Linked DNA regions of Homo sapiens. The protein of the gene in region 2 interacts with the protein of the main gene of each other region in a pairwise test. Each region holds a gene or a part of one and is shown on either strand. Other genes may lie near its edges.

Evidence for each region.
Region 1: the proteins of CDK6 (region 2) and APOBEC1 interact in binary tests that used the Homo sapiens proteins (3 or more experiments, as listed by UniProt).
Region 3: the proteins of CDK6 (region 2) and CCND2 interact in a two-hybrid assay, tested with the Homo sapiens proteins (2 studies listed by BioGRID, with this or other methods).

Annotation. Positions count from the first base shown.
Region 1 is NC_000012.12:7,654,658-7,665,614, forward strand, and holds part of APOBEC1 (C->U-editing enzyme APOBEC-1), read right to left. Parts: intron 1-10,957. UniProt on the Homo sapiens protein: Cytidine deaminase catalyzing the cytidine to uridine postranscriptional editing of a variety of mRNAs. Form complexes with cofactors that confer differential editing activity and selectivity.
Region 2 is NC_000007.14:92,825,309-92,836,265, forward strand, and holds part of CDK6 (cyclin-dependent kinase 6), read right to left. Parts: intron 8,652-10,957; exon of another isoform or gene 8,495-8,651; intron 8,383-8,494; 5' UTR 8,016-8,382; coding exon 7,783-8,015; intron 1-7,782. UniProt on the Homo sapiens protein: Serine/threonine-protein kinase involved in the control of the cell cycle and differentiation; promotes G1/S transition. Phosphorylates pRB/RB1 and NPM1.
Region 3 is NC_000012.12:4,282,382-4,293,338, reverse strand, and holds part of CCND2 (G1/S-specific cyclin-D2), read right to left. Parts: intron 4,498-10,957; coding exon 4,349-4,497; intron 1-4,348. UniProt on the Homo sapiens protein: Regulatory component of the cyclin D2-CDK4 (DC) complex that phosphorylates and inhibits members of the retinoblastoma (RB) protein family including RB1 and regulates the cell-cycle during G(1)/S transition.

The DNA.
Region 1 (10,957 bases), on a different chromosome or scaffold from region 2:
AAACAACACTCAAATATCAAATGAGTTGCTAAGAAAAAGTGCTCTATTATTCCAAACCTCCAAATCATCTCAGAAAATGGAATTTGAAGATTCTCTCATGGATTAATTGTATTGGACCAGCTCATTGTACCCAAGAAAAGCAAGATTTTTAAGGACTCTGCCAAAATCTCTTTTCCCAGATGCCCAATCCCAAACAAGGTAGTCTGCCTTAAGGCTTCAACAAAAATGATTAAGCACAATGGGAAAGTCACTTCTTAAAGCCTCTTAGAGGCCGGGTGCGGTGGCTCACGCCTGTAATTCTAGCACTTTGGGAGACCGAGGCAGGTGGTTCACCTGAGGTCAGGAGTTTGAGACCAGCCTGGCCAACATGGTGAAACCCTGTCTCTACCAAAAATACAAAAATTAGCCAGGTGTGATTGCGGGCACCTATAATCCCAGCTACTCGGGTGGCTGAGGCAGGAGAATCACTTGAACCTGGGGAGAGGAGGTTGCAGTGAGCCAAGATCGCACCATTGCACTCCAGCCTGGGCAAAAGAGCAAAACTCTGTCTCAAAAATAAAAATTAAAAATAGGCCCGGTGTGGTGGCTCACGCCTGTAATCCCAGCACTTTGGGAGGCTGAGGCGGGCAGATCATCTGAGGTCGGGAGTTCCAGACTAGCCTGACCAACATGGAGAAACCGCATCTCTACTAAAAATACAAAAAAAAATTGGCTGGGCGTGGTGGCGCATGCCTGTAATCCCAGCTACTTGGGAGGCTGAGGCAGGAGAATTGCTTGAACCCAGGAGGTGGAGGTTGCAGTGAGCCGAGATCACGCCACTGCACTCTAGCCTGAGTGACAGAGCAAGACTCCTTAAAAAAAAAAAAAGAAAGAAAGAAATGGAAATACAGGAAATGTTATGACACGATGGGTAGAGAAGCCTAATGTAGACATGGGCATGGACAGCTTTGAGGGGCCTCACAGGGAGTGGTGCAGACCATGGTGGTGGAGTAGTTTGGAAAATAGAAAAGGAGGTGGCATTGGTGGGGCTTTGATTTTATATATATAGAGAGAGAGTGCAGTGGCTTATACCTATAATCCCAGCTTTTTGAGATGCCAAGGCAGAAGGATCTCTTGAAGCCAGAAATTTGAGACCAGCCTGGGCAACACAGTGAGACCCCATTCCTACAAAATGTAAAATTAGCAGGGTGTGTTAGCACACACCTGTGGCTACTTGAGTGGCTGAGGAGGGAGGATCACTAGAGCCCAGGAGTTCCAGGTTACTGTGAGCTATGATTATGTCACTGTACATAGCCTGGGTGATACAGTGAGACCCTGTCTCTTAAAAAATTAAAATTTTATTTCATTTGTTATTTTTTTTGTGGAGGCGTGTTCTCTCTGTGTTGCCCAGGTTGGTCTCAAACTCCTGAGCTCAAGAGATCCTCCTGCTTCAGCCTCCCAAAGTGCTGGGATTACAGGCATGATTCACCATGCCTAGGCCAAATTTTTTTTTTTTAAAGAAAGAAATAAGGAAATAAATGGAAGATGTGTATTTGAGAATTTATATACCGCAGGCCTGCTGCTCCCCTGCATGACCCTGGTCAGATTACTCCATGGTTATGAAATCATGCCTCACCTGGCCTACAAACTAATCAGTGTCACTCCGTGGAAGAAAGTCTGGGCTGGAAAGGACAGAGGTTCAGTTTCCTGGGGTGCAGTGTGAGTGGCCCCGGCTTTGGAGTGATCTAAGCAGTACTTTGTTTAGATGGCTCTCCTGGCCCTTATCATCAGAGGAATATGGACCCCGCACTCTAGAGGAGGAAGTAAAACCAGGCAAAACCACGTCCTCCATTCAGACTCTCAAAGGTGGTTACAAACTTAAAATGGTCCATGAATCTCAGTCTAGTCTAAAGAAGCAACACAGTGTTGCAATCAAGAGCCAAGGCTCTAGGGTCAGAGAAAAATGGGTTATAATCCCAGTTTAGCCAATTACTTGCTCTAACACATTTGGCAAGTTTCCTAACCTCTCTAGACCTCAGTTTCCCCATTTGTCAAATGTAGACCCTAAGATTGCCTATTCCACAAGGTTGTCGGAAGACTCACGTAACACAATGAATGGAAAACATTTGCAAGGTGCCTGACGCAGCAGATGCTTCATAAACGTTAAGCACTGTTATTACGGCAGCCTTTCAGAGGGTTAGAAAGATGCCTGTTTTATGTTTATTTCAATGGCATGAACATCATTGACATTAAATGTCAACTTGGGAATTTTGAGGAGGTGAGAGCCTCCTGTGTAAGAATACTTCTCTTTCTTATCTCTACTATTCGGTTTGCCATGCATATGCTTATGGATTTTTAGTTTGGGTTGCAAAAATACCCACTTGGTGTCCTAGTGTGTTGTATATACGTGTGTGTGTGTGTGTGTGTGTGTGTGTGTGTGTGTGTAAATAGCTATTTAACAGAGGAAAAAGGGAACTAATAATACTGGTAACATAAACATCTCAATTACATATTTGGCATCCCAGCCAGAATCATTTGAACCAACTGCATTTCGTACTAAGTTACTACCCTTGAATTGAGCCTCATGTGTATGTTTCCTCGCCATGACTGCCAAATTGTTAGCTGAATGTCTAGTTGCATAACATAGAACCTAAGTTGAGCCAGTCCTTGGAATATGTCTCCAAAGTCAGAACACTTTTGAAGTGACTCTGAGGCTTTTTGCACCTTTAAGGCTGGAGAGAGGTGGATTGCACACTTTCTGACGTTTTATTTTTCATATAGAGGGCTAGCCATATACTGTGAAGTATGCTTTCTACGGTAGGCCCAGGCCATTCCCATGAAAAGAAAGTGAGCAAGGGCTGTGGAAAACTGAAGATAAGCCTGCATCTAGAGCTACTAAATTCCTTAAAATAAAAACAATCAATAACAACAAAACAAAATTAAAAAACAAACCAGGCTGTAGGCAGTGACTCACACCTGTAATCCCAGCACTTTGGGAGGCCAAGGCAAGATGGTCGCTTAAGCCTAAGATATCAAGGCCAGCCTGGGTAAAATGGGGAAATTTCCGTCTCTACAAAAAGATACAGAAGTTTAACCAGCTGTAGTGGTGCATGCCTGTAGTCCCAGCTACTAGGAAAGCTGAGGTGGGATAATCACTTGAGCCCAGGAGGTTGAGGCTGCAGTGAGCCATGAGCATGCCACTGCACTCCAGCAGGGGCAAGAGAGACAGACCCTGTCTCAAAAAAAGATAATAATAATTAAACTAAAATTATAAATAAATAACAAAAAAAATACCCAAAACTATTTCCTGGAAAAGAATTGAAGTCTATGACAAAAATGCATGGACTGATCAAAAGTCCCTAATTTCTTCCAATTTCCGAAATAGAATCACCTGGAAATTGATTTGTTCTGTTTTGTTTTGTTTTGTTTTGTTTTGTTTTGTTTTGAGACAGAACCTCACTCCACCACCCAGGCTGGAGTCCAGTGGTGCAATCTTGGCTCACTGTAAACTTTGCCTCCAGGGTTCAAGTGATTCTCGTGCCTGAGCCTCCCAAGTAGCTGGGATTACAGGCATGTGTCACCACACCCGGCTAACTTTTGTATTTTTAGTAGAGACGGGGTTTCACCATCTTGGCCAGGCTGGTCTCAAACTCCTGGCCTCATGTGATCTGCCCCTCTCAGCATCTCAAAGTGCTGGGATTACAGGCGTGAGCCACCGTGCCCGGCCAAAATTGGGTTTTTATTTCAGGTTTGATAGATGATTAAATAGGTGTTGGAGTCCTTGGTTACAGGTACATTATTTTTCAGACTCAGGCTGCGTTTTGAGAAAGGCGATACAGGAATTGGAGACTAAAGATTTTGATTTATGGCTTGATTACCCAACAGAGGTGTCACAGTGCCAGATGGTCTCAGAGTCAGTGGCATGAAGGAAAAAGGAAGTCTGTGAGACCTCACTGTAAGAGGCTCATGACAATAAAATTGAGTCTGAGAACTCTTCTCAAGCTAATATTTTTAAATAATAATCACTTGGCACATATTGATTGAAAATTTAGGCCAGGCGCGGTGGCTGACTTTGGGAGGCTGAGGCAGGTGGATCACCTTAGGTCAGGAGTTTGAGACCAGCCTGACCAACATGGCGAAACCCCGTCTCTACTAAAAATACAAAAATTAGCCGGGTGTGGTGGCACATGCCTGTAATCCCAGCTACTTGGGAGGCCGAGGCACAAGAATCACTTGAATCTGTGAGGCAGAGGTTGCGGTGAGCCCAGATCATGCCGTTGCACTCCAGCCTGGGCAACGAGAGCAAAACTCCATGTCAAAAGAAAAAAAAAAAAAGCACTTCCACCAAAAAAAGAAAATTTAAAAATATATTTATAGGCCGGGCGCGGTGGCTCATGCCTGTAATCCCAGCACTTTGGGAGGCTGAGGCAGGCAGATCACCTGAGGTCAGGTGTTCGAGACCAGCCTGACCAACATGGAGAAACCCTGTCTCTACTAAAAATACAAAATTAGCTGGGTGTGGTGGCGCATGCCTGTAATCCCAGCTACTCAGGAAGCTGAGGCAGGAGAATTGCTTGAACCCAGGAGGTGGAGGTTGTAGTGAGCCGAGATCGCGCCATTGCACTCCAGCCTGGGCAACAAGAGTGAAACTCCCTCTCAAAAAAAAAAAAAAAAAAAAAAAAAAAAATATATATATATATATATATATATATATGTTTATATTTGAAATTTAAAAATCACACACACACACACACACACAAAAGGAACTACCGGCAACCTGGAGTACTTGTGACCAACTCACCATTTAATTTGCACCAGGGAGATACAAATTAAAACCACAATGAGATATTCCTACACACCTATCAGAATGGCTATATGTGTGTGTATAGGTGTGCGTGCACAGACACGCATGCAAAACACCAAATGCTGGTAAGGATGCAGAGAAACTGAATCTGTCATACTTTGCTGGTGGGAATGTAAACTGGTACAGCCATACTGGAAAACAGTTTGCAAATTTATTTTAAAAAAGAAAAACTAAAAATGCAACTACTGGCCAGGCACAGCGGCTCATGCCTGTAATCCCAGCACTTTGGGAGGCCGAGGTGGGCGGATCATGAGGTCAGGAGATCGAGACCATCCTGGCTAACACGGTGAAAACCCAACTCTACTAAAAATACAAAAAACTGGCCAGGCGTGGTGGCGGGCGCCTGTAGTCCCAGCTACTCGGGAGGCTGAGGCAGGAGAATGGCGTGAACCTGGAAGGCAGAGCTTGCAGTGAGCCGAGATCAAGCCACTGCACTCCAGCCTGGGCGACAGAGCGAGACTACGTCTCAAAAAAATAAATAAATAAAATAAAATAAAGTTTCAATTTAAAGAAAGGGTATTTGGGCCGGGTGCGGTGGCTCACGCCTGTAATCCCAACACTTGGGAGGCTGAGGCGGGTGGTTCACAAGGTCAAGGGTTCAAGACTAGCCTGGGCAACATGGTGAAACCCCGTCTCTACTAAAAATACAAAAATTAGCCAGGTGTGGTGGCAGGCACCTGTAATCCCTGCTATTCTGGAGGCTGAGACAGGAGAATTGCTTGAACCCGGGAGGCAGAGGTTGCAGTGAGCAGAGATCATGCCACTGCCCTCCAGCTTGGGTGACAGAGCAAGACTCTGTCTCAAAAAAAGAAAGGAAGGAAGGAAGGAAGGAAGGGAAGGAAGGAAGGAAGGAAGGAAGGAAGGAAGGAAGGAAGGAAAGAAAGAAAGAAAGAAAGAAAGAAAGAAAGAAAGAGAGGGTATTTGGGCCAGGGACAGTGGCTCACACCTGTAATCCCAGCACTTTGGGAGGCCTAGGTGGGTGGATCACCTGAGGGTCAGGAGTTCGAGACCAGCCTAACATGGTGAAACCCCGTCTCTAATAAATACAAAAAATTAGCCAGGCATGGTGGCCCATGCTTGTAATCCCAGCTACTCAGGAGGCCGAGGCACAAGAATCGCTTGAACCCGGGAGGCGGAGCTTGCAGTGAGCCAAGAATGTGCCACTGCACTCCACCCTTGGTGACAGAATGAGATTCCATCTAAAAAAAAAAAAAAAAAGGGTATTTGATGGAAAACTATACAGCTATACAAAAGAATGAAATCATAAATCATGTCCTTTGCAGCAACATAGATGCAGCTGGAGACCATTATCCTAAGCAAATTAACACAGAAACAGAAAACCAAATATTGCATGTTCTCACTTATAAGTGGGAGCTAAACCTTGGGTACACATGGACATAAAGACAGGAACAGCCAGGCATGGTGGCTCACACCTCTAATCCCAGCACTTTGGGAGGCGGAGGCGGGTGGATCACAAGGTCAGGAGATCGAGACCATCCTGGCTAACATGGTGAAATCCCGTCTGTACTAAAAATACAAAAAAAAAAAAAAAAAAATTAGCCTGGTGTGGTGGCAGGCACCTATAGTTCCAGCTACTCGGGAGGCTGCAGCAGGAGAATGGCGTGAACCCGGGAGGCGGAGCTTGCAGTGAGCCAAATTTGCGCCACTGCACTCCAGCCTGGGTGATAGAGCGAGACTCCGTCTCAAAAAAAAAAAAAAAAAAAAGACGGGAACAATAGACACTGGAAAAGTCCAAAAGGACTGAGGGAGGGAGAGGGGAAAGAGCTGAAAAACTTCCCATTGGGTACTATGTTCACTATCTCGGTAGCAGAGTCAATACAAGCCCAAACCTCAGCATCACACAATATATACCCTTGTAACAAATCTGCACGTGTACCCCATGAATCTGAAATAAAAATTATAATTAAAAAATAAGAAAGAGTATTTGGTAGTGTGGAGAGAAGCCAGGATATCTTTGATGACAGATGATAGATAGATAGATAGATAGATAGATAGATAGATAGATATCTCTTTATAATTGTAATTATACATATTTTAAACCACAACTCGAGAGGAAGGAGAAAAGATAACTGAATGAGTAATAAGTGTAAAAAGATACTTGTAAAGAACATATGGAAAGATCCTATTGAACCAGCAAAAAAGGACCAGGCTCCAACTGGAGCCAAGTGGTTCCTGAAGACATTTACAGGGCAGTCCTGCTACATAAGGGACCTCAAGTGGACACAGATTCTCCCTTTGAATCGTGCTAACCTGGAAGGGGAAAGAGAAAAAAGCAACAATTGCTGCTCTTAGGTATAGAACCTAATAGTAGGTCCAGCACTAGAATTGAGAGATGGGAAGTAACAATTGATGTGGAAATGAGCAGTCATCTAAATTCCCAATGCACAGGGCTTCAGGGAGTGGGGATTATCTTGATCTCTCCCTTAGTCAAAAGAGTCCCTGGCTGGGTGCCATAGCTCATGCCTATAATCCCAACACTTCAGGAGGCTGAGGCGGGAGGATTGCTTGAGGCTAGGAAATTGAGACTACCGTAAGCAACACAGCAAGACCCCGTCTCTAAAAACAAAACAAAACAAAACCAAACCTTTTTTAAATTAGCCGGGCATGGTGGTGTGCACCAGTAGTCCCCACTGCTCAGAAGGCTGAAGTGGGAGGATCACTTGAGCCCAGGAGTTCGAGGCTACAGTGAGCCATGATCGCCATTGCACTCCAGCCTGGGCGACAGAGCAAGACGTTGTCTTTAAAAAATAAAAAAAATTTAAAAATTTAAAAAAAGACGGCCGGGTACGGTGGATCATGCCTGTAATCCCAGCACTTTTGGGAGGCCAAGGCGGGTGGATCACCTGAGTTCAGGAGTTTGAAACCAGCCTGGCCAATATGGCAAAACCCTGTCTCTACTAAAAATACAAAAATTAGCCGGGCATGTTGGCACGTGCCTGTAATCCCAGCTATTCGGGAGGCTGAGGCAGGAGAATCACTTGAACCTGGGAGGTGGAGGTTACAGTAAGCCAAGATCACACCATTGCACTCTAGCCTGGGCGACAGAGCGAGAGAGACTCCATCTCAAAAAAAAAGGAAGAAGAAAAGTACTGGAAGGAGACAAAAGGTGGTGGGGGCACCATATCGACCATATCAGAGATGGCAGTCAGAGAAGACATCTATAAAGAGGGACATTAAAGCTGAGACCTGAATGTAAATTTAGAGAGCAAGACATGTGGACGTCGGGGAAGGGGAGAGCTTTCCAAGCACAGGGAACACCAGGTGCAAACGACCTGAAGTGTGGACCTTGACTTGTTCAAGGAAGAGCAAGCAAGTCAGCTTGGCTGGGTCGGAGTGATCAAGACCTGCAATGGAGGGAGATGAGCAATGGAGGGGGTAAGCCACAGGGCCTTACCAGCTCTGGATAGTATGCTAAGTGTAAGAAGCCATTAGAGAGTATGGGGATGATTCAAGGGAGAGTACTGAATTTTAGAGACCTGCGCCTCTCAGGACTCAGAGGCTTGGGGATGTTCCTGGCAATAAAATGGGCGCTGACAAGGCCTGAACCTCTAAGGGTGATTTGGGGAGATGCAGGCAAGAAATTCATCCCACGCTCCTGGCCAAACCTTAACTCGCAGGTGCTATTTTTGAACAGAGAAGAGTCACAGGCTCTGGAAGACACTTCCTTTAAAACAGAGCATGCTTTACCCTAGGCTGTGTGTGTACCTGTTTGTGTGTGTTACTTTTTATGCATTTGCACTGGATGGTAGAGGAGTTGTAGAAAGGACTTGGGCATGGCATGGTTTTTTTGCAGAGAGTGGTTCTAGCTGGGGAGAAGAACTAAAATGAGAAATTAGCCAGATATCTAGGAAATAGGACGAAGTCAGGAAACACTATTCCAAGTGTGACCTGAAGAACAAATCTCTTACTTTTAAAGGAGGAATGGGGGATTTGAGCATTGGGAGGAAGGAGGAAGGGGGTGGCTGGCACGTTGGAATGAGCTCTTCTCAGATCTTAGTGCAAATTGGGGCCCTTGAACCAGTAATCTACTCCGAGGGAGCCTTACATAAACAGAGGCCACATCATAGGAAAAAGGCATTTGATGATGGGAAGACACTTTCTCTGAAAGAGCTGAAGCAGCAGTGAGAAGTTCAGAAAGGGACGGTGAGACATATGCTGTGTCTACACTGATCAATATTATTCCTGGGATGCAAAGACAAGGATACCAGCCACATGACTGGGGACAGTTTGAGGTATAGAACACACCACCTTCATAAGAAAAGTCCAGGGAAGGTATTAGCTACTACAATCAAATAATGTGTTTGGTCTTTCCCCCAGTATGCCACTTAAAAAAGAATTTTTTTTTTTTTCCCGAGATGGAGTTTTGCTCTTGTTGCCCAGGCTGGAGTGCAATGGCGCGATCTCGGCTCACTGCAACCTCCGCCTCCCTGGTTCAAGTGATTCTCCTGCCTTGGCCTCCCAAGTAGCGGGATTACAGGCATGTGCTACCGTGCCCAGCTAATTTTGTATTTTTAATAGAGACGTTGTTTCTCCATGTTGGTCAGGCTGGTCTCAAACTCCCTACCTCAGGTGATCCGCCTGCCTTGACCTCCCAAAGTGCTGGGATTACAGGTGTGAGCCATCACACCTGACCTTAAAAAAGAATTCTAACAGATGAAGAACATAAAGGAGAAAATAAATTGTTACTTCAACTCCAAACTGATATCTATATTACCTTCTGCCCCATCACACTCACACTATTGCAATAGTCTTCTAACTGGTCTCCTTGCTTCCAGTCCAAAACCCATCACATGTCAAGTAAATGTGTCTAAAGCACTATTTTAGTCATATCTCTGTGCTATTCATAAATTCTCCAAAGATATTCCCTCTACCATAAAGAAAAACTTTCATTCCTTGAGCCTGGCATTCGAAGTCCTCTATAGTATAATAACACTTCAAATTTGCTTTCTGGTCTTACTGCAAATTGTTTACATAAATTTTTTGTAGCCTAACCAGTTTATTCATTATATTCCAGACACAAGTCTCTATAAAAGCTTTTAAATTCTGTTCATCAATAGGATTCAATCAACCTGGAATCTCCTCTTCTTTGTCGATCCAAAGTCTGCCCTTCTGGCCTGGCATGGTGGCTTACACCTGTAATCCCAGTACTTTGGGAGGCCGAGGCTAGTGGATCACTTGAGCCCAGGAGTTCAAGACCAGCCTGAGCAATAAAGCAAGACCTCATCTCTACAAAAAAATTAGCAGGGCTGGTGGCCCATGCCTGTTGTCCCAGCTACCCAGGAAGGTGAGGCGGGAGGATCTCTTGAGCCCAGGAGGTCAAGACAGCAGTGAGCAGTGATCACACCACTGTACTCCAGCCTAGGCAACAGGGCGAGTCTTAAAAAAAAAAAAAAAAAAATTTGGTTAGGCATGGTGGCTCATGCCTGTATTCCTAGTACTTTGAGAGACCAAGGGTGGAGAATTGCTTGAGCCCAGGAGTTCCAGACCAGCCTGGGCGAAGTAGTGAACCCACCCGCTAGTCTCTAAAAACAAAATAAGATAAAAATTTTTTTAGGTCTACACTTCTCTTAGAATCCAGCTCAAATCCTAGCTCAGCTGAAATTACTTCCTTCAGCCTGAAGTGTTCTTCCTCTCCCATGCATTTTTCTAACACTGACTGTGCACAAATTTATCAATTAGTTATAGTCAATTCATTTGTCAATTAGCACATTGTTCTCATGCTATCACGTCTGTTGTTACCTTAAACTGTTATTTAAACAGTTGTACTTTTACTTAACTTTTTTTTTATTTTTGTGAGACAGAGTCTTGCTCTGTTGCCCAGGCTGGAGTGCAGTGGCGTGATCTCAGGTCACTGCAACCTCCGCCTCCTGTGTTCAAGTGATCCTCCTGCCTCAGCCTCCCGAGTAGCTGGGACTACAGGCATGCGCCACCATGCCTGGCTAATTTTTGTATTTTTAGTACAGATAGGGTTTCACCATGTTGGCCAGGCTGGTCTCAAACCCTGGGCCTCAAGTGATCCACCCTCCTTGGACTCCCAAAGTGCTGGGATTACAGGTGTGAGCCACAGCGCCTGGCTACTTAATTTTTTATCAT
Region 2 (10,957 bases):
AAATGGCGCATATTCTGTCATTTAGAAATACTTATTCAGGGTTACAAGACACCAGACATCATGCTAAATGCTTGGGATACTGCAAGGAACAAGACAACACAGTCCCTTCTTTCAAGAATCTTGTACTCCACTGTTCTGCATGCACATGCGTGCACACACACACACACACACACACACCCCAACCATATGTGTCTTAAGAAACTGGAATGAATTCAAACTGGAAGTATACTTCTTAATTAAACCTACCAGTTTGTCAAGATGGAATCCAAATTCTCTGTACACAAATTATGAAGAGGAGTAGAAGACAAGGCTCAAATGAAATTCAGAATCATCATCTTTTATAGAAATTATTAGGAAGGTTTTACCTAATTCTGCTAACAGGTTTTCCACTATTGAAAGCCAAAGAAATTAAAATTAATGGGAAAAATAAAAGAACTCAAGCAATTGATCAAAATGTATTTATAATACCTTACTTTCTTACATTTGAAATGTTCAAATCATTTTCAGCTTTTGCTGAATGTATGCTCATTTCCTAATGTTAATGTCTTCTTTGCAGTATATAAATTAAGTCCAAAGTTGCACAGTTAACTATAAGAATGAATTATACTTAAACTTTCATATAAACTATGTAGATTGGAGTAAGACAAAAATGAAACTTCCTTTTTTCAGTATTTCCTAAATTATTTCCCAGGAATCCCAATAAGTGTAATCCAATATGCAGATCCGTTCTCCCTCCTTGACACTCCTTAGTATTAACATTATTTCACATGATAGAAATAATTCATATGGTGTCTTCCTTTATAACTGGACCCCTTTTCAATGATTTCACTCACTTGTTACGTATTCACCTTATATCCAATGGATACAGGATATAAACGAATGTAATCACAAGACACTCTCTGCCTTAAAGAGCTTACAAATAGGGTGTGAAAGAGTAGAGAGTCAGAAGAGGGCTGTCATGGGAGTTAACATTCCATCTTACATAACAGAAATAATATAAGGGGACAGATACAAGCTAAGTGCCATAAAGGAGGTCCAAAGTTACCAGGACTCAAAGGAAGCAGAAATGTTATCCAAATCGAGGTATTAAGGAATACAGAACAAAGAAAGTGACATTTGAGGTTGGCCCTGAAGGATAAGCAGAATTTCAACAGGTGGAGAGTGGTGCAGGAGAGGTACCAAGTGCACATTCAGAGATCTGTTCAAATTAAAGTAATAGAGGTGGATGGCAAGAAATCCATTAGGGCAAATGGAGTAGTCCATCTGTCTGTAGGATACATGTTAACAAATACAGAGGAAGAACATGAGAATATCCTGTCAAAGCCAAAGCAAGTACAATATTGAAGATAAAAAATGCATAGTCAGGAAAAGTTTAAATATGAGTAAGTATTTGAAGACTCTTACTAAATAGACTTCACATGTGTATGCCTTACAGTTAATACCCACAGATCTCCCAATGTCAATAGTCCAAGATACTTGCTAATGCAGTATACAACTCTAAAACGATGAAAAGTGCTTATCTAAGGGGTTTAAAATTTCAATCAATCAGGAAACATATACGGGTTAACCAATGGTTATGGACACCATGTTATTTATGGATATAAAATACACAATCCTGGTTCTCAAGTCAGCAAACATAAAGTCACTAAACTGAAAATACTTTTACATCTCAAGGGATTTTTTTCTGGTATATCCAATGACCATCAGTCATCCTGTCTTACCAATGTTTAATATAAACCTCTGTCTGAATCTTAGCCATCCTCAATCAGTTTATATCTACAATGCATACAATCACAGAATAAAACTGTTCACTAACAGTGAGATAATTTTTTGCATTCATAAAACAACTCAAATTTTATTATTATAAAACAGATCAAAGGGGGTTGCACTAGGTTAAATCTAAGACTTCTTCCAATTAAAAAAATCCTTATGCTGTGATTCTAATTCTACTGAACTAAATCCTTTAGGAAGGCCAGAGAATAGGAATAATTTAAGTGGCTACTTAAATTACAAAGCCAGTAGATATCCAAATTTCGGCAAACTACTATAGACAAAGGAGATGGTCAAAAATGTTTAATAATAATCCTGACTCAAATGGACTTCCAGACTACAACTGTACACTTGCATAGATTCCTGCCACATGCCTTGCAGTCCCTCCGGTTCACCTCTCAGGCAAGAGCAGCTACATGTGCAGCTGGTAAAATAAAAATCAGGTATGGCAGCAAACTGGTGATATTCAAGAAAACTACCCAGCAGCTCTTGGAAAAATCTCTCTGATTGCTGGCCTGCCTGCTCCACCAAACCTAGCATCTATGGATCATCACTCAAATAGTGACCTTCATGTAAGTATGCTTGTTATCAACCACCGGTGCGTTTTCAGTGCTGCCTCCTGGATCTTGGACAAAGCCCAACATCATACACACTAACTTCTCCTGTTAACAATTCACTGACACCCAGATTTCATCTCTGCTGTGTTCTGTTACATCAAGAAGCTCACAATTAATTTACTTCCTATGAAGACAGAGCAACTCATCTGAACCTCATGAGAAAGAACAATAGTGTGATTAGTTCCTCAGAAGGCATGGAAAACACATATTTGCTTATGTGTCTGATGGTTATTATGCCATCTAATTTTTAAGTATTATGATGTTTTTATTTCATTAACCAGAATGTTACATAATGTGCCAGAGCCACATTATGTAATATTTCATTCATCAGACAAGTACTAAGTGTTTCAATTTTTCCTACTCCTCTTTGTCTAAAATGAATTCAATATTATTAATGAATTACCTGCATAATTTACCTGTATCATCATTTAACTATAGCTATTTTAAATTATTATAATTAATTTAAATTATCATAATTATAGCACAACTTCCTTAAAAGAAGAATTTACTGGAATAATACTCTTGTAGAGATATACTTCAGTATGGCATACTGCAGAATTCAGGAATTTACTGAATTTTTATTCATTTATCGTTATGTCATTCATTCCTGGCAAACTGTCACTTTTGTCTACATACAGTTCATTTTTTCCAAACTAGAAATGTACTCACCCGATTTAACTGCTTCCATCAAACAAACAAACAAAAATTGCTACTTAGTTTTAAGAACAAGTCAATAACTTTAAAATGGCATGACAGACAAGTAGCTTGACCTCCAGAGTGTCTTCCAACCCTAATATCCATGGTTTTACAATGATAGGCTGCATGTATGCTGTGTTTCCTTCTTAAAAAACTTTCCTAAGAAATCATTAATAGTGAGACATTTGTTTTTTTAAAAAAGAAATAATTTATTTTTAATAGGAACCTATTTGCATAGATATTCATTTACCCATGTCTTAAACATAGGAAAATATCCTCAAAGATATTCAAGTTTATACAAGTTTTCCTCTTATAGACCTTTTTTGTCCTTGATTCCATAGAGAGATTCTAATAATTCTATGTTGATAGTGGTTGTATAAAAGGGATATAACTGCAATGTCAAAAATTCAGCATTATCAAGTTCTTCTGTAGGAACAAAAAATGAGCAGAATACCATTGTGAAAATGTTTATTTACTAAACAACCTTGAAAAATCAGAAACTTTTCAAGGAACTCTCAGAGACAGAAAGAACAAACATACTTTTAACATACTGATATTTAAAAGGAGAATTAAACTCCTGCTTTTCCTGCTTTTATTGAAAAAAGCCCTAGTAAATGTATTATTCAACCACACAAATAGCAATTTTATTCAGAAGGATTCTCATGAACTAATCCAATTGAAGACCTGGCTTTACAGAGTCAAATATGTCATGTTTCTTTTACCCTGTTAACAATTAGGTTTTCCAGAGAAAATCACATTTTTACTCACCTTTTATGCAATATATTACTAAGATCTTTAAAAAAGAGAGAAAATTAGAAAACTCTCCTTGAATAATCATTAAGCTTTACAGCCTTTTCTTTGGGTTTTTTGTTTTGTTTTTAAAGCAGTGACTATTCTAATTATAATATTTAAACATCACAAGTTTATTCACTGATATGTAATGACTTTTAGTTTCCAGAGCCAATACTTGAATTTGAATTGCTTTTACTGTTACACTAATAAATATAATCCCTAGAAACAATACAGGTAAGCACTGGCTTGTATCTTTCTTACAGCACATGATCCTATCATGTATCAGGGTTATGGTGATCATCTTATTCCTTCAAACATGGGAAGAACTGCTTCAGGAGAGTAGCTAGGTATGATTTACCCTGGTATCTTTCCCAGCACCTAGCCCCATGGTTTTTAAAGCATATGCCCTTCCTAAATCCTTTTTGAATAAATGGAGCTCAAATGTTCACTTATATTAGCTATGTGTCAGTATCTCATATAGATCAATCCCTATGTTAGGGAGGTAAAATTTAATCTTCAAAAAGCACTTGATTCTGATTAGCCTTTTGGTTATGTTGCCTACTCAATCAGGAAATTCCTGGTAACCGAATTATCAGAAATATCAGTTGTTCTATAAAACTGGTTAGGTTAAGTATAACAAAACAAGGCAATTAAAACAAAGATGAGTAAATTTTTAAAGAGAAGAAAGAACTGCTCATCTCATTACAAGGCAAGTTCTACAAGTGCGGAGACTTTTCCAGGCTTGTTCATTGCTATATCCCCACCTTCTAGAAGAGTCTGGCACATAGTGGACCCTCAGTAAATATTTGGTGAATGAACAGACTGCTGACAAAACATGCTATAATTTTATCTCTATTGTTTTTAGTTCAGGCTGTTCAAACAGGATCCATTTGTGCAGTGCAGAAACTCCAATACAGGTTCACAGTGAAGTCCTATTCTGGCAAAGGTTCCAGGATTTGGGATTACCAAATGTAAAAAAAGAGTAAATTTACTTCCCAGACACTCACTGGCTGATCAGGCGAGGGCCTGGGATACATCAAATGCAGGTAAGCAAGAATTTCAAGTCATTATCCCTGTGCATGCAGGCAGTACCAGTGCCAGCAATAACAAGTCAGCTTTTCTGGCAAATCCATCAAAATTAAATCTTAAACTTTTGAAAAAACTAATATGTTTATTATGCTCCTGTTAGCTTAGAGGCTTAACTATCTGTGGGGGAGGGCCTATAATTATGATCAATTACTTATGACTTGAAGGTACTTATAAAAGCATCTGCCCTTTTAAGAAACCATTAAAGAACCAGGCTTAAGACTGTAAAACTAATCCCAGGGGCAATAGTAAATCACAGGTTTGGGGACCCAACTTTGACAACTCTCCCTTGGAAAGAAAAGAATTGCTGTCAACTGTCCTTATTTCCTGACCCTGTCTGAGCAAATATTCGCAGCCTCTAAAATCCAGAATTCTTAGTCTGGCCAAGCAAGTCATGGGGACCAATGGTTGTTTCAAGGCAGAGGCAGAAGAGAAGAAACAGGAAGGAAACAAAAAGGGAATGAAGATCTGTAGCTCATGAGGGTGACATCATCAATAATTTCCTCAAGTATCACTGAATTTCATGGCTCGTGACTGAGAGTCTTTTCTGACATCTTACAGGCTAATTATCCTCAAGGATCTTCTTGGTTCCAGAGCCTGTAATGTCTGGGTTTGAATATGATTTGTTCTACAAAAAAGGTCAGGTGAATTGACCCCTCCCTGTGAAGCTGCTCCATGGCAAGAGACCATCAATCTGCTGAAACGCAAACAATCCTTTAGATATCTGAAGTACTTTCAAATTTACAAAGTGCTTTCACATACGCCATCTCATTTTATTCTCACGACTTTAACAGGTAGGTGCCATCATCACCTTAACACGTAAAAATAATTTTAGAAAACAATGCCTTTGTCTTCAGTTCATAAGAATATCCTCCTGAAATTCACAGTACAGAATCCAAGTCATGGGTCAGTTAGAAACGTCTAGAAACACATCAATCTCAGGAGGATAAATCAAGAGAATAGGATGGATCAGACAAAATCTACAAGCACAATGGCAGAAAGTGTGCCTCTGGTATAAGAATGGCGTAAGCTTTGTAAACAATAGTGTTATACAGGGGTGCCTCTGTAGTACCTCTACGTTTGGAAGGACACTATTCATTCATATACATGATAAGCACCCTTAACTGGATACTCCATAGGTAACAGACAAAATAAAACAAGAACTTCCGTCTTAAAATTGTAGTGGTGGAATTCATCCTTCGGGATGTATTAGGTGATTCCCCTAGGACGACAGCTGAGTTACAGGGGGCTAAATATACCCTCCCCTTTTCCCTCCAATATCACAAAGAGCCCCAAAAACGGATTTTGTTGTTTTTAACAAATAAAATACACATGAAAAAAAGTCATCTATAGGTTTTTATATATAATCTCATCTTCTAAAACACTCATTCTCCTTCACTAGCTAGGCCGAGGTATAATGCGGTCTTAACTTTATAACCATTTACTGCCTTATTTATATATTTATGATTCTTTGATGCCTTCTAGCTTGAGTCTAAACTGCGTTGGGAACAAAGCACCGCACAAATCACCAGCCTGGGATAAGAGGAGACAAGTTAAAACCTCCCAAGAAGATTCTGTAGATATTTGGTCTCTCTGAGTCTGTAGAGAGTTTGGTATTTCAAAGGTCAGTCTTGGGTCTCTCCACTTTGATGACTAATGTTAAATTGTTTGACTTTTTACAAAAATATTTAGCTGTGCTTATTTACATCATTTCATCCTCAGCGCACACAGTAGGCATGTATTTGTTGAACAGAAGCCCTAAATGGATGAGAAAAAAGATATTTCTGCTACACATTTTCTCAAGATCGAGAAAGGTAAAATCACAACCCAATTTGCAGAAGTTTCTAGGCATTCCTTTTCAATGTAAAGCTATGCATCTCTGTTTAAAAAAGAAAAGGATGACACAACCAAACAATGTCAACCACACAATGGGGAAATTCCAGGATCACTAAGAAAACACCATTATCCTAAGTCACACATTTTCATTTAATACTGGTTACCACACAGGAGAGAGTAAGAACTGCTGTCTCCCCACCCACTCGCACAATCCATCTGGGAAAAGCATGGGCAGAACATTTATGATCTAACCATACCACATCTTGGACTCACATTTAACCCTTTGGAGAATTAGTCTAAAGAGTATGTCCGCCCAGAGATATAAAGTAAAACAGACACAGGGATAACAGTTTTGGAAGAAATTTTTATGACGCTGTTTGAGATTGGGCATCAGCACTCAAACTCCTTAGACCACCAGGAGTCATTCTTACTACGCAACTTTAATAAAGAGAAACTGAGAGTATGACTGGCAAAAATATTATGATGTTTCTGCATCTTGTTAACCTGATTTACACTTGGCTCCACCCATAAAGTTCCCACTGATTATCACACGGCATCCTCATTCTCCAGTCTCACCTACTCTGTCTTTCAAAAATTCCCCAACGGCATGGCCACGAAAAATATGCGGGGGCTAGCGGGGCATGTCTCAGGTTGGCTTATCCTGTCCCTAAAACGCACCCACTTCCCCCAGACCCTCCTTCAGGGTGGGCAGGGAGAAAACGCTTCTAAGTTGCACAGCTGCAGGGAAGCCTGCTCAGGTCATGTTTTTTTGACTTGTCTTTCGGCTCGCTGTCTGGCAAGGTCACCGGCTCTGGCTCGCGGCTCTGTCGACAAAACTTAACTCTCACTCTGTAAGACCAACAGGTCGCGCAGGACCTCCCCAGTCGCCCTCTGCCCCGCACCTTTCTGGGCCTGAGGATTCCCGGCTCGGCCCTCCCCGCGCGCGCGAGGCCCCAGATGGCGAGGGCGCAGCTCCCTGGCTCACCTGACCACGTTGGGGTGCTCGAAGGTCTCCAGGTGCCTCAGCACCGCCACCTCGCGGATGGTGGAGAGCGGCATGCCCTCCTCGCCGGTCTGCACCCGCACGCGCTTCAACGCCACGAAACGGCCTCCGTTCTTCAAGTCGCGGGCCTTGAACACCTTCCCATAGGCGCCCTCCCCGATCTCCGCCACGCATTCGTACTGCTGGTCAGCGCGGCACAGGCCGTCCTTCTCCATGCCGCCTGGACGCCGCCCGCCGCGGCGCCGCTGGGGCGGGCGGGGGGTGCGCTCAACTAGCTGGCGGCCGCCGCTCGCCTACTCCGGGGCTCCCCGGAGATCGGTCTAGCTTTACTTGCTCCCCGCCGGCTCAGGCGCTCGGGCGCTGGGGCTTTCGCCGCTGCAGAAGCTGGATGGAGAGACCTCCCCGCGGGGCTGGCGTAACCCTGGTGCCGCCGCCGCGAAACTCCGCCTGCAGAGTCGCCGCCGCCGCCGCCGCCGGAGGAGCGAGCCGATCCCTCCTCTTCCCTCCTCGAAGCGAAGTCCTCAACACAGACACGATTACATAGCCTCTGCCCAAGCGCGTCTCAGTCCAGAATCATTGCACCTAAAGGAGGAGACGGGAGGATAAGAAGAAAGTGCAATCAGACAGCCCAGAAGCCTTCCTCGGGGTTCCTCCAGACTCCCCTCCTCCTCCTTTACGAAGCCTCCATCGCTACCCTCCGCGCGCTCCTGCCCTCTCCCAAGCCGCTTAATCCTTCCTGGTTCCTCCGAGAAAAGCGAAGTTACTTTTCTTTCCCTGCAGGGCTGAAGCCGTCTTCGCGCGGAGAGGTTGCAGGGGCCCCTCGGGGATGAGCGAGCGGCGCGGGACGCAGTGGAACGGGAGGGGGCGTGCCGAGCAGCCCAGAGTGTGCCGGGAGCGCGGGGGAGGGGAGGCGCCGGGCACGTCAATGTCACGGCTTAATATTTATCCCTATATCATTGTGTTGCGCCGCTACCCTCCCCGCCTCCTGAGGCCCGGACGTGCAGGGAGACGGGGTCCAGGGGTGCCGGAGGGCGTTCAGGGGTCGCGCACAAGCTGGAGCGGAAGGACTGTGGGTCCATCCGTGTGGGGCCGCAGAATGTGGGTGGGGGCTCCCAGGACCCTGTAACCCGATGCTGGGAGTGTGCGAGAAGGGGTGGTCAGACATCTGCTCAGAAATTGCTTCCTTTCTTTCTACTTTCAGTTTTTCTACGAGGAGACATTTAAAAACGACTCGCATACACAAATGGTCTTTTTGGGGTAAAGGAGTCTCGGTTGGAAACGGAATTCTCTCTCCGGCTGGGAGGACCTCCCTGGTGGAAACCTTGGGAAGACCAGCCATCTGGTCGGGGAGGGTTGGGGCTTATCGGGGGTGGGCGAGCGAGCGGTCCTGGGGGAGGGGAGACACCGTCCCCCACGGGATCCCAAGGGTGGGAGAAAGGGGTGTTCGCCACAATTTCGCTTGTCGTCTCCTTAAAGAATAACTTCAGGAAGGGGATAGCATAATCGCGCCTCGTCCTTAAGTTTTAAACTGATTTCGACCTGAGCAAAACTCAACCTCCCTTTCAAAGGGTGGGGGGTGGGGGGTTAAATCCTGCGCCTCCAGGGGTGAGAGAGAAGGTCTCTGTCCTCGGGGCCCGGACTCGCGAACCTTTTCCCATTCCCAGGACCTCCCCGCTGTAGGTAGCAGAGGTGGCTGCCCCATTCCCCCTCCGGCTAAAGGCCCGGTCCAGTCTGCAGCCGGACGCCCCCGGAGCCCTCTGCACAACAAAGCGCCAGAGTAGGGTACCCTAACTTTCCCTCCCCATTCAGCAGCTATCTGGGACCTAGGGGGCCTCCCTCCTCCAGGGCCGCCGCGGCCTCGGCAGGACTTTCACCACGACGGCCGCATGTCCGGAATTCCCGGGGCACCTCGGAATTACCTGCCTCGCAACCGCTGGCCCGCTCGCCTTTTGCCAGGAATTAAACAAACGGCGCGACCCCCACGATGAGCGGGTGGAGCGGACCGCGGCGAGAGCAGAGCTTCTGGCACTCACTACATTCAGAACTTTCCTTAAAAGCCGAGGAAAGAGCCCCCAGGGACTGCCCGGGGGTCTGAGCCAGGTCGAGGGCCACACAGGTAGCCGGGGAGCCGCCGCCGGCCGCCCAACCCGCCTGTCCTGCATCCCCCCAACCCCCTCCCGCTCGAGTCTAGCCCCGGGCTCCGCAGCGAAGGAAGCGTCGGGGACGTCCCACCCCCGCAGGGAACTGCGCCTGCTGCCCCCGCCGGGCCCCGCACTGCCCTGGCTCTCCCCCCACTCGCCCCCCAGACGGTCGGCTTCGGCGGAGAGAAACGGGAGCAGCAATGCCTTTTCCCCCCCTCTCCTCCACTTTTTTTTGTTGTTGTTGTTGCTTTCCCACGCTGGCTGAATGTGACTTGACCCCATTTCAAAAAAAGTTTGACATAGTGCTTCAACATTTCCGCATTCCTCCGCGACTACAAAGGCTGCAGCCGCCTCCTTCTGCTTTCTGTCTCTGCTCTCTGTCTTCACACTCAATGAAATCCTTCATGCGCCTCTCCCGAAGCCTGCCAAGCACCACAAGGGTCGCCACCAGCACAGCGACAAGAGGCCACACCGGGGACCGCGACTCCCGCGTGTGCGCACACGCAGATGCGCCCATATGCACACGGACGGGCGCGCTGCGGGGACCAGGGCTGCTCACTGCGGGGCGTGTGTTTAACTCCAATATTTTAAATTATAAAAGTAAACTTGGAAACTACAGCAAACGTGCGTCTTCGCGGGGCTCCAAGCCTGGGCACTGGCCGGCTGCGTGCACTTTTCTGTGTATAACACGCCCGCAGGAAGCCTGCGTTAACATTTATCTCGTGGAGGGGAAGGTGGAGCCCACACCCACACCTCAGCGAGCTGGAGAGGGAGTTTTCGAGGGGGAAATGCAAGCACATTCTCCAGCATGGAGTCCCTAGAGGCAGTGCATTTTAAACCCTAAATGTGAATTATTATGTGAGTGTCCGAGTAGAGTTCCAGTTCCGTTTGGAGAAACTGTATGAGGCGTGTTCCGTGTGGGTGTGTGTGCGTACGGATACGTGGAAGCAGGATCTCGGTGTCGCGGGTGTCCCTAGGCTGGGATCTCCCCCTCTCATCAGATAAGGAGAATCCTC
Region 3 (10,957 bases), on a different chromosome or scaffold from region 2:
ATGACTAGAGTCTTTCTTCTGTTAAGTATCTTGCAATAACTTCACAACACCTTTATGGCCTGTGAGCCTCCATTCCATTTTTTAGTTAGTGAATTTGTGCAACTGTGTCATATGAAAATGAAGCCACTTCATTTAACCTACTCTAAGATAAGGTTGGGGAAAACTCAGAAGGCTCGGAAGGCCCTGACACAGAATTGAAGTTAAAGAAAAGACACAGCTTTTCAAAGGACATGGACAGACCAGTGAATCGGAAACCCACTGGAAACCCATCTGCCTGCCTTTGTCCTTTGCTCCTTCCTTCCTCTTCCCTTCCTCTCTTAAGCATCACTCCCAATGACTCTGCCAGGGGCTCTGGATAAAGAGCTGAGGAAAAGCTGGGCCTTATTCAAGAGGTTCTATAGACAAGGAAGCAGTGAGATCAATGCTGGCACGCAGCCCGACTAGTGTGCAGAGGGGATGGAAGAGGACCCCGATTCAGCCCAAGGAAGCAGGGCCATGGTCACCGGGGACCCAGGCCAGTGGCACCCTCCCCTCTCAAACCTACCCAGGCACTGGACACCCCCAATAGACGTCCCCCCTACAGCCAAACTGCCTCTCTGGCTGTTTTTAGCAACTCTTACGATTGGAAGGAAAAAGTATTTAAAATATACCACTCTCTGAGACGTTTATTCCCTATAAAACTGTCAGGCCCCTCACTCAGCTTTCTCTTTGGAATGAAGCGTTCTGGTTTATTTTGGCAACCAGACGGAGCAACAAAGGCCGACTTTCTCAGAGCCGCATGCGTCCCTCATATCAAAGCTATCTGCTCCTGGCCAATGAACCACAGAGACTCGCCTGGCCATCTCACAAGAATCAGGGGGACCCTCTTTCCACAGCTCGATCCCCGACAACCCACGACCTAACCCCCAAAGTAACAGAGAGCATTGCAAGCTTGAAGAAATCAGAAACAGCAAGGTGTGTAGGAGCTGACATATAACTTCAGGGGCTCTGGGGGAAACTGTCAGCTCTTCCTGATTCCCGTTTGTCAATGCACTAGGGCCAGGGGGCAAAATGTGGTCCTGTGTATTTCACTTTTCCAGGGAAGAGCTCAACATCAACCTATGGGCATTTCATAGCGTGGCCCGAGAATGTTTCAGACATACATACATACATATATATATATCCATTTATGTATGTGTGTGTATATACATATATACACACACACATTTTACTATCATAAATACACATAATGTCAAATTTCCCTTTTCAGCCACTTTTAAATGTACAGTGGCATTAAGTACATTCACACTGCTGTGTGGCCATCAGAACTCTCCATCTACAGAATTGTTTTCATCATCCCAAACTGAAACTCCGTACGCATTAAACACTAACTCCCCATCCTCTCCTCTCCCCAGACTCCTGGGAACCTCTATTCTACTTTCTGTCTCTACGAATTTGACTATTCCAGGTACCTGGTATAAGTGGAATCATACAGTATTTGTCTTTTTGTGTCTGGCTCGTTTCACTTAACATAGTATTTTCAAGGTTCGCCCATGTTATAACATGGATCGGAATTTCATTTCTTTTTAAGGTTGAATAATATTCCATTGCGTGCCCATACATTTTGTTTCTCTACTCTAAGAACAGTTTCTATCACCAAGTTTTCTCTGCTGGGAGGCCGGCATTCTACGTTAGGCCTGATGAGCTCCTTCTTTTGGGTTGATTTCCTACTGCATTTAGGGTTCGTAACACGTTACGTAGCACACCTTTGTTTACGTTCTTAATTTGCTAGGGTTTTGCACGCTTTACTCTTGCTTCATCATACAACTGCTAAGTTCCTTGAAGGCAGGAATCTCATCCTCTATTTCCCAGATGCCACCATCCACCCCAACTTCTAGCAACAACTGGGCCTTCAGTAAAGACTTCCAGAAACGAATGAAGGAAATACACCACTTCGTGACTCGTGAAATGGTAAACAGAGCTCAGGAAGCACAACTCACCTCCCTCCAAACACTAATGTGTTCTAAATTCTAGTCCTTTTATTTTTCTTCCCTCTGAGCGTCAGCTTTTCAGAGAACACAGGCTGATGGATGGGAGGAGATTTAGCACTTGGAAAGGTGCATAAACACACACACACACACACACACACACAGCCTAGCCCAGAGCTGCTTGAACCTTTCCACTAAAAACATTTTCAGGGAGAGCGAACCAGCCTCCGGGGTGCCAGAGGTAAGCCTGGAACTTCCTGAGGGCTCAGATTTTTCTTTGAAAAAGTGTTATGAATTGTACATTTCACCGCGTTCACTCTTGGTTTTTAAATATGAACATGTTCAACCCAGGTCCACCGGTGTGAATGAGGCACACACAGGCAGCCCCAGTTAGGAAACACGGCGTGTGCCCATTATAGAAATGAGGTATCAACTTGACCAACAGTTAGGATTTATAGGAGGACACCCCTAAACCAGCTTCGTACCCACTTCATATCCATTTAACAGAGTTGGCCAGCTGACTTAAATGGACTGGCTACGTAGTATCAGAAAAAGGCAAACAGTTTCCCCAGATGAGATGACGGACTGACTTGCCTGCGGTCTCGAAAAGCCAAGAGACTCAGCAGCAACTCCCAGGAGGGAAATTTCCACCACTGTCCATGTGAGATCAGTAACGGGGGACAAAGGGAGGTGGGAAAAGGCTGGAGCCGGTAGGGTGGTCAGCCCATCAGAGCAGGTCTATCAACATCGGGGGAAAAGGTTACAATGCCTGGGGGCAGGAGGAGGGGGGTGGCCGCTTCCAACTCCTGTCACTGACATTTTTGTCTCCAGGCATTGAGGAAGGGCTTGTCTTAAACTGGCTGAGAGTCCTATTTGTAAGGCAGCCTTAATTGGAGACATTCAGAAAAGGAGGAAAGCGTACCATTTCTATAAACGTTAAGTCCCGTCCACGATTTTCCTCTGGAGGATTAGAAAAGCATTCTTCATGCTGCACTGGAGGGAGGTTTTCAGTCTGTGTTCTGGAGTCCTCGTTTAAAAAGCGTATGTTTGGAGCCCGCATTTTAAAACCATATCTACGAACTATCTCAGAGGAGGACCCCGGATTTGCTCCGTCAGCATCTCCCTGCGCCATTTCTCTGAGCTGGGAACAAATGCCAGGGAAAATCCAGGTGGGCGGGCGAGGAGGCCGGCGAGCTGCAGCCGTGGGCTCTCTGAGGTTTAACCTGTCCCGTATCCCTCGTGCAGGCCTCAGCCATAGGCCTATAAACCACATGATCCCTTAACTCAATAAAAGCCCGCAGAGGGCATCTGAATCCCCCCGGACCATCCAGAGGGTGTCATCGTGAAGTGCCCAGCATTCTTCAGCCTCTCCATGGTGATGCATGAGGGCTCAGGGCCAACACCCCTCTCTCAGGTTGACTTTAAACCCCAGGGTTTTTTTTCAAACCAAAAGATCCCAGGAGCGGCAACAAGGGTGGAGTGGGAAGTTTCCAGGGGGCAGTCGGAGCCTGGGGGTTCTAGCCCCAGCTCAGCCACTGCCCACCCCGCTCCTGGCTGGTTACTTCAGTCCCTGTCCTGCCCGTGGAAAACGAAGGAATGGCCTCTCTGACCTCTTGGCACCATCCTGTCTCGGACGGGCTAGGACTGCAGCTTCCTGCTGATTGAATTCAGAGGCTCACTTGACCCTGGTCTCTCTCAAAACCTTTCTTCTCAGGAGCTCCAAATTCTGGCAACAGGAAGTTAACAGCCTCTGGGCCGTCCACAGGGCACACAGAATGGGGAAGCTCCGTAGCTAATAATAGTTTCTTGAGTTTGTATGGCACTTTGTCTTTTGAAAGCACTTTGTAATCCATTACTGCATTGAACAAAAGGGAAGAGAGAGCGGGGAGGGGTCGAGAGGTTTGCCAGGGACGGACACCGTTCTCACAGTGGGGCACCTCTTGTGTGTCTGCTCCATCCACTGCAGCTGAGTCCTGGCTCTCCTTTCTCCTCTGTGCGCCTTACAGCCTCAGCGTGTGAAAGCAGACACGGCAGCTCTTCGCTGCCGGGCAGAGGCAGCCTGGCAGCGTGTACAAATATGGCAATGAAGCAACAATTCAGACCCACTGAGAAGCCCACGCCATAAAGGAACATCGGTAAACAGCCCTCCCACCCCCACCCCCTTCATCTGCTTGCTGAGTTTTCTTCCGTATTTTCCCGTGCACAGCTTTTCAGAACCTTAAGAGGGGGTGTCACCTGCTGAACTTTGCACTCCCTTGGATGTCGATCTTAGGAAACAAACCAGAAAAATACCTCTGACACAACATAATCAAATCCGTCGTCTCCTTCCCTGAGCTGAGAAGAGACATCTGGACTTAGCCAAGAAGGTGGTGGCCACCTACCACGTCTGTGTTGGTGATCTTAGCCAGCAGCTCAGTCAGGGCATCACAAGTGAGCGAGCTCACTTCCTCATCCTGCTGGAGCCCACAGATGGCTGCTCCCACACTTCCAGTTGCGATCATCGACGGTGGGTACATGGCAAACTTAAAGTCTGCAAGGAATGAGAGGCAGAAGGTCAGGGCACAGAACGAATTTGGATCCTGGAGCTCCCGAGACTGCAGAGACTCAGAAACAGGACGGCAGCAGGTCAGCGGCGCGAGTGACCCCGTGCCCTACAGGCATGTCCTCCCTCGAGTTCTTTCACAAGGAGCCTGTGTTTATTTGCCATCACCATGGCTGTTCCAGATTAAACGAAGGAGACTGAGGCAGGGAAGGAAGACAGCTTATCTAAGCGCACACAATGAATGCACAGAGGATTCAAGGTCCCCAATCCCCAGATCCCAGTCATATTAAGCATGTCTGAGTTAACATTCTTGACCCTGGTGGGGGGAGCAAGGTGAGCGAGTCATAGTCTCCTCTAGAGGTGATGGTGGGAACAGAGCAGAGAATGCCTGAGACCAGTGCAGACAAGGTACCCCATGGGCCATGCAAGCAGGACAGACCAGGGGCTCCAGATGTGAGAAGGAGGGAAAGTACAAGGAGATGGGAGAAACGGGCAAAATCTATGCATAATGCTAATTCAGATGGGATCTTGTTATAGTCTCTGGACAGGCATTGAGGATTAATATGACCCCCACCCAAAAAAAAAAAAAAAAGGTTTGATCTAAAAAAGGAAATGAGAGAAGCAGCAATGCAGGGAGTGGGCGAGTGGGGGCTGAGTTCCACCCAGTTCCCAACCTCTGGCCCAACAGCAAGAACCCTCAGAACATTAGGGCAGAGGATTCTAACCCTAACATAGGGCTCTAACTAAGCACTGAAGATTAATCATTGCATCCGAATCAGATGGGTGACTCGGTTTCGATGTTATGACTCATGAGACTGAAGGCCCCATTTTATTGCTAAGAGAAAAAAATGTGACTTGCTACAGGGAAGTGCAGAATGAGGATAATAAATCAGAGGGGCTTGAACCCCGTCCACTGCCATGCTAGAGGGCTCCTCTTGGAAGACCAGCCCCCTTGTGTTCCTCCGAGCACTCCTTCAGAGGGGCTGGGTGGCCATGATCCAGCAGCTGCTTGGTCCATCGAGGGGAAATAAAGACAGCCAACTTCTCCTGTTACAGCTGCTGACAGCTACCAATGACCACCACATGCAGTACGCTACACATTACGTCCTGTTTAATTTACCCATCAGCCACAGAAGATGCACACGAGCGTCACCCTAATGGTATGGGTGAGAACCCTGAGACTTTTGAGAGTTTAAGTTGCCCCTGCTCGTGTTGACAGATATTAGGGTGGGTATAGTTGCAGCCATCACGCTAGTGACGGTCCTGGAGTGCAGCAAGTCTTCCAAAGCGTACTCTTTCTCGTTTTAGCATTGCTCTAGTGAGCTTACTGTGTGTAGACATGGAAGGGGCACGTGGGGGCAGGAGACACAGCATACAGGGAACCGTGGGTCACCCTTCAACTTACAGCAAAAACAATCAGGTTAAATCTACAAAAACCAGCCCCTCTCCTATTTCCCCTTCCTCCTGTACACACTCTATTACAAACACACTTTCTACAGCAGCTCTTTTAATGGTCAGCCCATTGCCCCAGCATCAAGTTAGCAGCATTGTTAGACACCGTGGATCCCTGAGCCAAGCACAGCCCTCCCCTCCCATCATGAACGCAGAGCAAACCTGGCCATCTGCCTGTCTCCTTGGCTTTTTCTCCATTGCCCTCTCACCATCTCCACCTCTTGAGGGACGTATATAATGGTGCTGCGCCCACGCCTGCTGTCCACCCGCCCCTCCTACGCCTTCTCTGTCGCCATGAACAGTGTGACAAAGCCAGCCTCCCTGCCTCTTGCTCTGCTGTAGGTCTCTTCCACATGGGTCACAGGAGAGTGTTTCTCTGCCCAATAACCTCGTTAGCTCCCCCCTGTGACATTCATAACACAAGCGGGGCAGCCGGCCCATGGCCCTGGGCCCACAAAGGCCCGGGTGGGAGCATCTGCCAGGGAAGAGGCAGGCAAGTATCCCCGGCCCTCCCTTCCCTCTGCCATAGGCCTCAGACCGGGAAGCACACCTCACACATGCCCATCTCTGCTGTCCCACTGCTAGCAAAACCAACTCTTATTATTGGCATACGAATGAACTTCTGGAAGCCAGCAGGCATAGGGGGAACAGGTGCACCGGTTGCACAGGGAGACTCTACCTCCCTTTTTGTTTTACTAAGAAGATTTTCAGGGGAGTCCTCTTGGGGACACTGTCCAATCCCACAGAATTGGGGAGCACTATGTGCATGAACTTGACTGCCTCTCAGCAGCTCAGAGTGGCACCAAAGGAGCAGTGTGTTCCCACAGCCAGAGGAGAGACGCCGCTGGAGACGAGGACGGCGGCCGTGCTGCCCTCTGTTGCCCGCTACACAGAAGACGAGCATCTTCCTCGGGATCCCTGAGCATGCCCCACCTCTCCTCCAGGTTAGTCAAATACTGAGGCAACATCAGCCCTCCAGCTAGGTCCAGACGTGGGACTGTGGGCAAGTCACTTCCTCTTTCCAAGGGCTTGGTTTCCCATTTGTCTAATAACGGGTTGGGTGAGATAAGTGTTTTTCTAACTTCTAGCTGCAACTCATTAATGGGTCATGAAATGCATTTGTGGGTCGTGACCAGCACTTTCTGTTGTTGTTCTCCTTTAACCAAATAGAGTAGGATAGAAAGTATCAGGCTCACCGTATGTCGTTAAGAGTAAATATTGTTCGGAGAAACTTTTGTATCAGTTTGATATACTTGTACAAGTATCCTGAGTTGTGTTATAAAATGTGTTTCTTCCTACATGGCTTAGGTCAAGAGTTTAAAGATAGTAAGCAGGATAACCTCCCAGGTGCCTTACAGGTCTACTTTGCTCTTACTTGAGGATCTGGAATGGGAATGACTCCCAAGGAGAAGAACAATGAGGAGACAATAGAATGGATCACGGTGTCTACCAGCCGGCAAATTCACAAAGCAGCCCTCTCCACAGAGCGGCGCTACTTCCCCGTGGCACCAGGGCTGCCCCAGGACCACTCTCAAGGACATCCCCCTCTCTACTGGTAGGGGATACTGAACAGAGAGAAAAACAAAAAAATCAAACATCATTTCATCTGTGCACTAGCTTCCTAGCTGTAATTAGCCAACCCCCACCCTCAACTGTGGAAAGCTCCACCTACCCAATGCAGCCATTCCTGGAAACCATCAGCTTTGTCGCTATGACAGGATGGAGAAATGGTCACAATATCCACTCAGAAGAAGGAAGCGGAAAACCAAATTGCATGCATGCATGCGACGATGAAGATTACAACCATGGGTAAATACATACATATATGCCTATGGATGAACTGGAAGGATGCACGGAAAATAAAAGCTGTTCTGTTAGGTGGGAGAAACACAGATGAGTTTGTAAAATTTGTACGTAATATTATTTTAACAAATAAAAACCAGGTACAAATTTCTCAGCAGTCTGTTAAGTCTCTTGATCAAAAATGCCAACAAGCAATATGCTGGTGCAGAAGGCACGCTCAGGGGTGAGGGTGTGCCCTCGCCATCGTTAATTGCCCACCTGGAGAGGTGAGATGCTGGTGACTTCCTGAGATCCTTCCTCCTGCAGCAGAGAGAGAGGCAATGAACCGATCAGCGATCCATTCTGATCGACTCATGACAATGTGCTCCTCCCTGTTCCAGGCAGCATGGAGGACTCCCCCCAAAACGTACAATATTCAGACTTCTTAAGGCTGGGCATCAATGCATTAGATAGTAGAGGATGGTGTGCTATAATGGCTAGGTCTGTACTACTATATGGATAACTTCTGAAGAAACTTCTCAAAGAAAGGGGGCTCTTGAAGGCTGGGCGCAGTGGCTCACAGTGTAATCCTAGCACTTTGGGAGGCCGAGGTGGGCAGATGACCTGAGGTCCGAAGTTCGAGACCAGTCTGGCCAACACGGTGAAACCCTGTCTGTACTAAAAATACAAAAATTAGCCAGGCATGGTGGCACGCGCCTGTAATCCCAGCTATTCTGGAGGCTTGGGCAAGAGAATCACTTGAACCCGGGAGTTGGAGGTTGCAGTGAGCAGAGATTGTGCCATGCACTCCAGCCTGGGTGACAGAGCAAGACTGTCTCAAAAAAAAAAAAGAAAAAGAAAAGAAAAAAAAAAAGAAAGGAGGCTCTTGAGTGAAGAGGAGCATTTGAGACACTTCTCAGAAGACTCTTCAGGGAGATGGGAAGGATTTGGAGAGTAGACTCAAAAAGCTCCAAGCTGGAACGTGGAGTGCACGGAGCTTGGGCAGCCTCCACTCCTGCCCCAGTCCCCACCAGACCCAGGAGGGCCTTTCTCCAGGTTGCTGCATCTGGAGATCTGAAGAGAGCAGGAGCAGCCACACGCCTTGCCATGGGCAACAGAGGCCGTCCCAGGGCCTAGGGCTCCAGCTCCCCTCCAACCAAAGCAGACCTCTGGAGAACACAGCTCACTGGTTCAGAGTATTAGCTCTGGAATCAGAAGGAGGTGGAATCTCCATCCCACCACCTACCAAGTGTGTGAAGATGAGCAAGTTACCTGACCTCTCTGAGTTTTCATTTTCTGATCTGCAAATAATGACAACAGCAATACCCACGTTGTAGTGCTGTTCTGAGGATTCACTTAAAATAATCCTTGTAAAAGCACAGTGCCTGGTTCAAGGTAAGCAATGAATGTCAGCCAGCATCCTCCCCAACCTGCCCCTCCTCTGCTCTCACTCCTAGTACTTCCTGCAGGACTGTGGTGGGGAGTTCCGACTGGAGATGCTCTCCAGCGTCTGGAGGGATGAGGAGAAAGGCGCCCAGCATCCCTGGATTGCAGGCAGATGCAGGGAGCAGGCCAAGCAGGCCAGGAAGAATGAGGGCTCTGTGCTTCCTGGAGAATCTGTCACTATCCAGTTGTGTATGTGTCCCAGAAATGACATCATCGAGTCCCCAAAGCCTCCTGCTGCTTTGCAGAACTGGGAGAAAGTGCAGCCCCACAGGGGAATGAAAAGAACCCCATGAACACTCAGCGAATGGAAGAGAGAAGTTGGCAACTCTAACCCAGCACATTCCACAATTCATTGAGATGCAGTTCACCCGAGCCAAGGAACGATGCCCAGATAACCAGGAACACCCGACATTCCCGCCTCCCTCCTGGCAAAATGGTGGAGGCAAAGGACACACCTTAGGGGAATCCCAGCTGGACCCACAGGCGCCAGGGGCAGCTCTGCTGTGGGCTGCATGCTTGCTTATGACGGCGGTGATGATGGTGAGGTATTAATAAAAAGGAGCTTGAAATTCATCTGTTTCAAACATCTCCTTTTACAGGTGAATCAATGAAGTCTTGGGAGATGAAGTGATCTGGCTGATGTCACTCACTGTGAGTGTTGGGCCTGGGATCCGGATGAGACTTTGAGACTCTGGATGCAGAGCTCTTCGTAACTTACTGGAAGCTGACCAGCTCCTCAAAGTCACCTCCCATATACCACTCAGGAGGACAGGGCAGCCTTTCACGTCGGAAGTGGGAGAAGAGCCCCAAAGGTGGCGCTCTGGCTCAGGAATCAAAGGAATTGGGTCCCAGCCGCAGCCCCGGCACCAGCAAGCACAAAAGGCTTATCCTCCCAAGGATGCCCTGGGAGCCTCTGGGGGTCCCGCTGGGCTCCCTCACCTGGGCATGGGCCCTGAGAAGTGCTCCATTTCATCAACTTGGTATCTGCACTTCTTGGTAGGATTTTACCAAATAAAGAGTTCAGAGCTAAGTAAGTTTAAAACCACGGAATACATGGTCCTGCCCAGTACATTTAGCACCCATCATTTTGGCTATGGTGGCCGAGGTCTTGGGGTGCAGGGGTGATGGCTTTGCTTCTGTTCACCAATAGGGGGAGAGAGATACGCACTCTGACGCTGAAGAAGAAAGGGAAGGCCAGGTCAGGCTTTCCCCATCTCTCTTCTCCAACCTGCAGTCAGGTGGAAGTTCAAAGGGCCAGAACCAGAGTGTTCACAGGCCAGGGACGTCACTGGGCACGCACCTCATCTGCCACCCCCATAAGAGGACCAGCATACCCTGTCCTTGTGGGGCAGGGCTGCCATGGCAAGGGAATGCCCATGCAACTGCAAGGCCTGCTGGGAGGAGCTGGGGAGGGGGCTGGTTGGAGGGCGATGAGCAGCCTGCTACCCATTCATCTTACAGCCAGAGGGAAGAGCGATGGCAAGCACCACACTGCCTGGCTGCTTGTCCCCACAGGGCATGCTAACGACTCCCCCTCAGTCCCATGACCTCGCGGCTTCAGGGGTAGCTCAGAGACTTGCAGATGGAAAGACGGGTTTCCATTCTTCCTTCCCAGCACCCATCAAGGCGAAATCTCCCACTCTAGATCAAGGGCCAAGTCATCGAACTTCTCTGGGCCACCACTGTCTCCCTCTCACTTGGCGATGGAATCTGAGGGAACACCTGTAGGTAAAGCCAGGGAAGGGGCTAGGACAGCACAATGGGTTCT